2 separate regions of the Homo sapiens genome follow, and region 2 is linked to region 1. Evidence: fine-mapped expression QTL. A gene starts in region 1. The other region holds a variant in brackets. All regions are shown on one strand. Distances are between the middles of the regions.

Evidence for each region.
Region 2: its variant is fine-mapped to the expression of CHST15 in whole blood (TOPMed, PIP above 0.99).

The regions. Positions count from the first base shown.
Region 1 is chr10:124,091,837-124,096,222 of GRCh38, reverse strand. CHST15 (carbohydrate sulfotransferase 15) reads left to right here and starts at 2,625. Exons shown (of 8, transcript NM_001270764.2): 1 at 2,625-2,754.
Region 2 is chr10:124,036,390-124,040,775 of GRCh38, reverse strand. It overlaps CHST15 (carbohydrate sulfotransferase 15), which reads left to right. Exons shown (of 8, transcript NM_001270764.2): 5 at 2,105-2,261. Among named protein-coding and RNA genes, the nearest start is that of CHST15, 55 kb to the left of the region's middle. The variant A/G (reference allele first, on the strand shown) is at 2,659.

The DNA.
Region 1 (4,386 bases):
ACTTGCCCAGGGTTGCTCAGCTAGTGGGTGGCAGAAGTAGAATTTGAACCCAGGCAATTTAAATCCACAGTTGTGGGGGCCTAGAGTGCACACACGGGAAGCGGGGATTTATTTTCTGAAAGTATCTGCATTTTTTTTTCTTTTTTCTTTTTTTGAGAGGGTGTCTCACTCTGTCACCCAGGCTGGGGTGCAGTGGTGTGATCTCGGCTCACGGCAACCTCTGCCTCCCGGGAATCTACGGGCTTGCGCCACCACGCCTAGCTAATTTTTGTATTTTTAGTGGAGACGGGGTTTCACCATGTTGGCCAGGCTTGTCTCGAACTCCTGACCTTAAGTGATCCACCCGCCTCGGCCTCCCAAAGTGTTGTGATTACAGGCGTGAGCTACCGTGCTTGGCCGGTATCTGCATTTTTTTCAGCCGTGACTTGCTAATACCATGTTGGTATCAACCTCTCTTGCAGTTACACATTTATTTGTCTATCCTTCCACCCATCCACAGGGACCTGGCATTTGGGTGTTCTTTCAATTCTCTGCAGTAACAGGCTCAAGTGCAATTCTTGGGTAATTTTTTGAAATTAAGGTTGAAAGGAAAAAAATCACCTTCTAGTTAATCTCAGGCACGTGTATAAATACCTTTGGAAAGTCCCTGGTGGAATTCATATCAAAGCGGCACCGTGATTTTTACTTAAAAACAATTTTGCTCCATGTCAACCGTGGTTTCTGACACCTGAATTTGAAAGTGATCTGGGTGGGCCCAGCGCCATCTCCATAACGGAGTTATGTGTTTACTTGGAGGGAGGAGAGGAAAGGCATTATTCCCTGGCAGTATGTGTGGCCCTGGAATAATGTTCCACACACCCTTACAGAAGGGGATTTCCTCCTTGCTGTTTCCACAGACCCTTCCCTGTGTTTGTTTAAACCCGTTGCACACTGGTCTGACAGCTGCCTGGCCCAGGGCCTTCCTTGCAGACGCATGTACAACCAACCCTCTTTAACAGCAACCTGCTCTGTGTCCCCTGATGCAATTACTCGAGTATATAAACCTCACTGAAAGGCAGGCTTTTCTTGGGAGCTAATAAATAAGCCCCAAAGCCACAACGTGTGTGAGACCTTGAAAAATGGCATCATCATCTATTGGGAATTGTGAACCCTGCAAAAAGCAGCTCGTTGTATTTTCAGAAATAGGTTTTTGTTTAAAAAAAAAATAAAGAACAAAAATCACTAAGTGGAGTCTATATGGAAAAAGCAATCTAGTCTGAGATTCTAAGGCAAGTCTCTTTGCTGCATTCATCTTTCTTCGCAGATTTTATGTAAGAGGCATTATTTGCAGGAAAACAAGACAGGATTTTAAAGAACTCCCCTCTCATCCCGGTTTCCCATCTGCAGTTATAATCCTCTGATGGTGACCTCTGCATTAGTTGCCATGGGTGCTGAGCAGAAGTTTATGACCTCAGGGTGGACTGTAGCTTCAGGGGGGCGAGATGAAGCCTCCGGCAATAAAGAGATAATGGGGAGAAGCCACTGTCAGGAATGACCCTTCGGTGGCATGTAGTCTACAGTTAACGGAGCACTTTCATTTCCACTTCTGGTTGCTTCGAGGAAGAGGGTGCTGGACTCTGGCCACGGGGACACAGGCCGGCAAGAGACTGCAGATTCTTTTTGTCCCTTGGACCTCAGTTTCCTGAGAGGCTGGGCTTGGTGCTCCAAGCGCCCTCTGAGCGAATCTGCCAGAATTTCATGTGTCTTTTCTTTAACTGATGGCATCTTCAGCCCAGAGTCAGTGGAGTCGGCCACTGGTGCCGCTTTCTTGCCCTCGGGCTGTCCAGGTGGTTCCCTGGGGCAGCCGACTCCAGGCCACTGCGGCAGGCCGTGGCGATCGGGGTCCTGCAGAGCTTTACCTCCCCCGCGGAAGCAAAACACGCCGGGCCAAAGAGCCGGGCCAGCCTTCCCGGGATGCAAAAATACAACAGAGGGCGCCGAACTCACCAGCGCTGTGGCCTTGAATATTAATGTACGGGCTGGCTCCAGACCGCCAAGTTCCTTAAAGATGTCTCTGGCGGCCGGGCGCGGTGGCTTACGCCTGTAATCCCAGCACTTTGGGTTGGGGGGGCGGACGGATCATCTGAGGTCGGGAGTTCGAGACCAGCCTGACCAACATGGAGAAACCCCGTCTGTACTAAAAATATAAAATTAGCCTATTTTGCGTGGTGGCGCATGCCTGTAATCCCGGCTACTCGGGAGGCTGAGGCAGGAGACTCTCTTGAACCCGGGAGGCTGAGGCAGGAGACTCTCTTGAACCCGGGAGGCGGAAGTTGCAGTGAGCCGAGATCGCGCCATTGCATTCCAGCCTGGGCAACAAGAGCGAAACTCTGTCTTTAAAAAAAAGAAGTATCTGGCAAGGTGTCACTGCCAGATTTCAGGGGTTTCGATGTGCTTTTATTTGGAATCACCGCAACACACAAGCAGTGTTGACTCGGAGGGGGAGGGGGCAGGGGCCAAACCCACCGCTCGGCGCACACGCCTTGATCTCACATTCCAGACTGGAGCTGATGTGTGTCAGCGCGACATGGGGCGGGGGGAGGGTTCTCCTCGGATGTTTCATTCGCCGTCTGCACGTCACTCCCAAACTTTTCCTCCCAGCGCTCGGGGAGTCAGGTTGACGCGCCCTGGATGCGGGGCTAGAGGCTCGGGGCTGGGCGCGCTCCCGCGGAGCCGGAGCCGCAGAGGCTCCCGGGCTGGACTCAGGCTTCTCAGGTACAAGTTAGGTGCCAGACGCCGAGGTGGGGTCGGCGAGGAGCGGCGGTAGGAGGTCTGGCCCTGGGCTCGGGGCTCCGGCGCCCCTCCGCGGGTTCGGGCCAGGCAGCGCCGGCGGCGGCCGGGGCTGGGCGTAGGGAGTCCGGGCCGGCGGAGGCGGCGCGCAGCCTCACTCCCCGCGGCGCTCCCGGCGCGGTGGTGGCGGTGGCGGTGGCGGCGGCGGCCCAGGCAGACAATGAACTTGCGAGCTCGACGAGCCGAGGCAGGTTTGGGCCCCGGGCTCCTTGGCCCGGCCTCCCCGAGGCTTCAGCGATCCCCAGCGGGAGGAGTCCCTTCGCCATTGGTCCTGGCCGCGCTCCGGGCGCCCTGCGCGCTTGAGGACCCCGCGGGAAGGGTTACCCAGCGGCGACACACGCCCCCTCCCTCGCAGAGAGGACGCGGCCGGAGCGAGGGGACAGGGGACCGAGCAGTGGCGTGGTGGCGCCGTGGATAGCCGGAGGCCGGCGGGGGGCGCAAGCCGCGTGGAACGCACCGGCGGGCTGTCCGGGAGAAGGAGCCCAGTAGTCGGAATCGGGGCGCCCCTGCACCGCCCAGCTCTGGGAGCCGCAGGCGGGGGACCGACCGACGGACAGACCAGTGCTTTCACGGTGTGAGCGCGCGTCGTTTGGCGGTAGGGGACGGGGATTCCCCCCAGCCTTGCGCTCCGCCCCCACACCCCTATCGCACTTTGGGGAAGTTTCCAGGCGCGGCCCGGGGCAGGTAAGTGGGCATCCGCCACTCTCTCCCCGGTTGCGAGCTCGGATGCGCTTCCAGAACCCTGGCTCTAGCCTTGCGGCGGTTCCGGGCGGGGAGGCCAGAGCTCTCCCGCGCCTAAGCCCGTGGGACCCGGTTCAGGGAAGGGGGATGGCGGGGGCGGGCCTGGGAAGAGATAGGGGAGCGGCTGAGCCCCGAGCGGTGTGAACTTTTGCTCCCCGCCCCCTCCTCCTTCCTCCTCCCCGCCCCGCCCCCACTGCTGTCCCCTCCCTGCGCCCCGCCGCGTCTCGGGAGGCGGCGTGACTCGGGAGTTGCCGGCGCTTCCCGGCGGTGGCGGCGTCTCTGGCCGGCCTTGGTGCGGCGAGCCGAGCGAGGCAGCTCTGAGCCGCGCGGTGAGGCCAGAGGCGGGGAGCCGGGGCTGCGGGGCGGCGAAGCTGGGGAGCCGGATGGCAGCGGCCGGGGCGCGGAGGCGACGCTGGCGGTGGAGATGTAATGCGAGTCTGTTGGGTTGTGTGTGCCGGGAGATAGGACGCGGTGGCTGTGGGTGGCTGGGTGGCGGGCTGTGGCGCAATTGGCCCCCTGGGATGGCAGGATAGAGGCGCCGGGGCGAAGGGAACCTTGCCTTTGGGAAAATGAATGAAGAGCCGTGGAAGCACCTTCCCGACTCCTCCAGGCAACCGATGGGCCGGCGTGCGCGCGAGTGTGTGCGTGTTGAGGCTTCGGAGCCGCCCGGGTCCTGGGCACAGCTGCTTGACCTCCCCGTCGCTGTCCGGGTGCCCACGTTCCCGCCCGCCCTGCGCCCGGGGCCGGCCGGCGCGGCTGGGACGGCGGGTATAGAGGAGGAAGGCTGGGGCTGGGTTGCCGGCTGCTGGCGGCTGG
Region 2 (4,386 bases), 55 kb after region 1:
GACAAGTATCTAGCCCTGCTTGGGCCAGCGGCCAGCTCTGTGCCTTGCGGCCGTTCATTTTTCCTGTTCCTGGACTCTGTCTGCACCTCTGCAAAGTGGGATTGTTGGACCAGGTCAGTTCTAGACTCCTTCCAGCTCTGAAATGTGACTCAGCTCTGCCCCAGCGCTTCCTCTTTGTTAGATTCGGGGCAGAAACAGCAGGATCTTTCATCATCTTGGGCCCCTAGGTCAGAGAGGACCTTTCTTCTGCTGTCTTTTTGACAGCTAGAGTCACACAAGAGGTTCAGGATTCAAGTGGCCTGAACGTGATGGCTGAACTTGAGGCCGGAGCTTTAGACATGTTGAAAGTCTCCTGCCTCTACTCCCAGGTACCCATCGTGGTACTCTTTGTTTCTTGAATTGCCATCGTCCCCCTTATGTCTTAAGGTCCGAGAGAGGAGGGGCCGTGCTTTCCTCCCCTGATCTGTCCCTGGTGCCAAGCACAATGCTGAGCACGGATTAGACACTAAGTTAATGCTTCCTGGATGGACGAAGGATGGATGGTGGCTGGATGGAAGGAAGACAGTCAGGTGGATGGACAAACGCCTCCATGGCTCTAAAACCAGTTCATTTTTGAGATCTGACAGAATTTGTGCCAATTTAGCTAGAGAGTTCACTTGTCCTTTATATTCTTATTCATTGTGAGTAGAATTTTCAAGGGACTTCTGATTGACTCGTTTTTTCTGTATCCTAGGGTATTATCTCTTTAAAAAAAGAAAGAACAAAAGGCCAGAACAGAGCTGTTCACCTGGATGTGATTACGCATCCGACAGAAATGATAGGGGCCTGCAGGGATATGATACACTTGTCACTGACCAAAGAGACTCAGTCATCTGGCTCAGTCTCTCCCCAGATAAGTAACTTTCAGATGTGTCCTGTGGTCCTTGGCAAACTGTCAGGAAATCAAGTGTAGAGCTGATTGATGAATTTCCTTTTTCCTAAACACACACATATACACACACACATACACGCACACACACTGTCTCTCCTCAAACCCTCAGGAAATTTGGCTTCATCCTCTGAGAGAGTCTGTGCTGTTGGAATGCCTGCCTGTGTCTTGGCATCACCTCTGTGCTGGGACGTGTGTTTGCCATTTACATCCTTCACTCGTGAGGACCATGATGAAATGTGAAACTGGCTGGGACCCAGTTCCCGTTCACCCAGGCTGCACTGAGTAGGCGCCAGCTGCGTGCAGAGCAGTCGCCTCGCAGGAGACAGGGCGTGTGAGCCCTGTGGCAAAGCCCCTCTCTCTTTTAGTCTTAGAGTATGCTCTGTGATGAACAGTTACAGCTTCAAGGAAGGAAATCACACTCAAATTCCTCATAAGGGTTAGTGTTCCCACCCTCCTCCTTTCTCCTGACGCTTTGGAAGGAAATCATCTAGTACCAGCTCCAGGCTCCTGGTCTGCTAGACCAGTTCTCGGCTCCTCCCGGCTCTGAAATGTGGCTCAGCTCTGCCCCAGCTCTTTCTCTTTGTTAGATCCTGGGCAGAAATGTCAAGGCCTTTCATCATCTTGGGCCCCCAGTTCAGAGAGAACTCCATCTATTATTACTAGAACCATCTACTGTATAGAACATATATTGGAATACTATACAGGAAAACCATTTTCAAAACCACCTATAATTTCCCACCTAGATAACTGCTGTTTATGTTTTGGCGTGTTTTTCTGACAGACTGCATTCTCAGTGGGCCCTTAAAATGCCACAGAGCTGTGCACTGTGAGCAAAGTTAAATACTGTGAAACTGGGGGCCCAGGTGCTAGGGAAGGTTTCATTTTTGCTCCCCTTGGAAAGAGGAGCTCAGGGGTGGGGGCACTCAGTGTTGCATGGATCGCCTGGACTTCCAGACAGAAGTTTTTGGGGTGGAGGTGGGGTGTGGCTGTGGCAGGGGGGGGCATCCAACCTTCTCTCTTTGGAGTCCCAGATGCCCGCAAAGGCTGACAGCTTGGCCTCTCCCGCTGCTTAAGAGGAAGGCATCGGGGCCAGGTGTGGCCTCTGGCACCTAGAGCCACTCCGTGGGAGCCTGAATCACACCCCTGCTCACTTGGAGTGTTTTCTGTTTCCAGGGGAGGCCAGTGCCTCCACGATGTGGGATAATAATGCCTGGACGTTCTTCTACGACAACAGCACGGATGGCGAGCCACCGTTTCTGACGCAGGACTTCATCCACGCCTTTCAGCCAAATGCCAGACTGATTGTCATGCTCAGGGACCCTGTGGAGAGGTGAGCAGTTTCTGTGTGTTGTATTTGGGGTGAGAAGAGGAACTTTTGAAGAACAGTGTTCCCCTCTCATGACAAATAAGATTTTGTCTCCTTTAGAAAAAATTAAACAGGTCGGGTACAGTGGCTCATGCCTGTAATCCCAGCACTTTGGGAGGCCGGGGTGGGTGGATCGCCTGAGGTCAGGAGTTCAAGACCAGCCTGGCCAACATGGTGAAACCCCATCTCTACTAAAAATACAAAAATTACCAGATGTGGTGGCACACTCCTATAGTCCCAGCTACTCGGGAGGCTGAGGCAGGAGAATCGCTTGAATCCAGGAGGCGGAGGCTGCAGTGGGCCAAGATGGTGCAACTGCACTCCAGCCTGGGTGTCAGAGTGAGACTCCATCTCAAAAAAA[A/G]AAATAAAATAAAATAAAAACAAACAAAAATAAACGGAACTTGCAACGTTACTGCTGTTTCTTACGTAAGTGTTATTCTTGAGGCTGTCCCCACTGAGTTGACACATGTTGCAGATGGTTTTCTTAACCATTCTGATCCTGGTCTGTGTGACTTCAGCCCCAGCAGGCCTGACCAGGGGCACAGGACGGTTCCTTGGTACTGTCAAGGCGAGGGAAACACCCTTAGAATCAGGGGTGTAAGCTTCTCCACGTGGTTTAACTCCTAGAATTCTGTGTCTCTCCACGTGGTTGATGCCTTTATCCTTGTCTGCGTTGAATGTACAGTTTCCAGCTTTCCTTGAGAGACCAAAAGGAAGAACAATGCTGAGCAGAGCAGCTTTGCTTTAAGATCAAGGGTTTCCCAGTGTGGGTGAGGCCAGGGTAGTGGGATATTGAACAGCCACTATGGGGCGGCCTGGCTGGCACTGGGCACTGCTTGCATCATTTATGCCTGTGTGAATGCAGAATCTCAGGGCTGCCAGGACCTGAAAATTATTTGGTCCAGTGCTCCCTCCAATACTTCCACATCAGAGCTAAGGGGGCACCTGTCTAATCCGAGGCCCTCTGAGTCAGGGAATTCTCCGCGCAAGATGGCCAGTGTAGCTTAGGACAGCTGTGTTCCTATTTTGAGACCAGGTCTGTTTTGGGGAAACATCCACTCATTGGTCCTCTTTCTTCTCCATAGAGTCAGACAGACCAAGTCTAATCCTTCCAAAACAGGAGAGGCTGGCGATATTTAAAGACAGGGACCACAGCCCTTTGTGTCTTATTTTCCTTTGGGCCAACTACATCTTCTTATGGATTGAATTGTGCCCCCCAAAAAGATAAGCTGAAGTTGTCTCCCCCAGTGTGTATGACTGTGACCTTATTTGGAAATAGGATCTTTCTTTGCAGATGCACTCCGGTTAAAATGAGGTCATACTGGATCAGGGTAGACCCTCACCCACCCTAAGACACAGGGAGCATGCCTCTTGACGAGGCTGGAGTGATGCTGCCACCAGCCAAGGGGTGCCAAGGAGTGCCGGCAGCCACCAGAAGCCAGGAGAGGAGTGGAACAGATTCTCCCCTGGCATCCCAGAGGAACCACCTCTGCCCCACACCTGGGTTTCAGACTCCAGCTTCCAGGACACTGAGGGAAGAAAGTCCTGTCATTACGCACCACGAGTTCGTGGTGATTTGTCCTGGCAGCCCCGGGAAACTGACCCCTGGGACCCCTTCTTCAGGTGGCATACCTTCCTGGCCCCACGTATTTGCCAATTATAACAATAAGGCGTGTTTGTTGTGGAAATTTTGGAACATATATTGGAAAACTGTTTTCAAACTATTAATTTCTCACCTAGATAACTACTATTTATGTTTTGGTGTATTTTCTTCCAGACTTTTCTATGCAAATAAGTGTGTGTGTGTGTGTGTGTGCACATGGGTGTGACAGGACAGTCTTATGTCCTGCTTCTTTCACTTTGCATTGTTGCCCCCCAGAAACATGCTTTAAAGTCTGCTCTGGTCACACTTCTGAGCTGATGTCCCTCTTGTGGAGTCTGCATGGCTCCCGCTGCTCTGAGTATGACCTGGTCAGGGAGAGGCTGGATCTGCCCTCCCTCAGCCCCAGCGCTCTGAGCCTGAGCTCTTGGTGGCTGTCCCGGTGCCATGCCTTCTAGCAGGTGCCAGGTGTGGTTTCGCTCCCTGCTC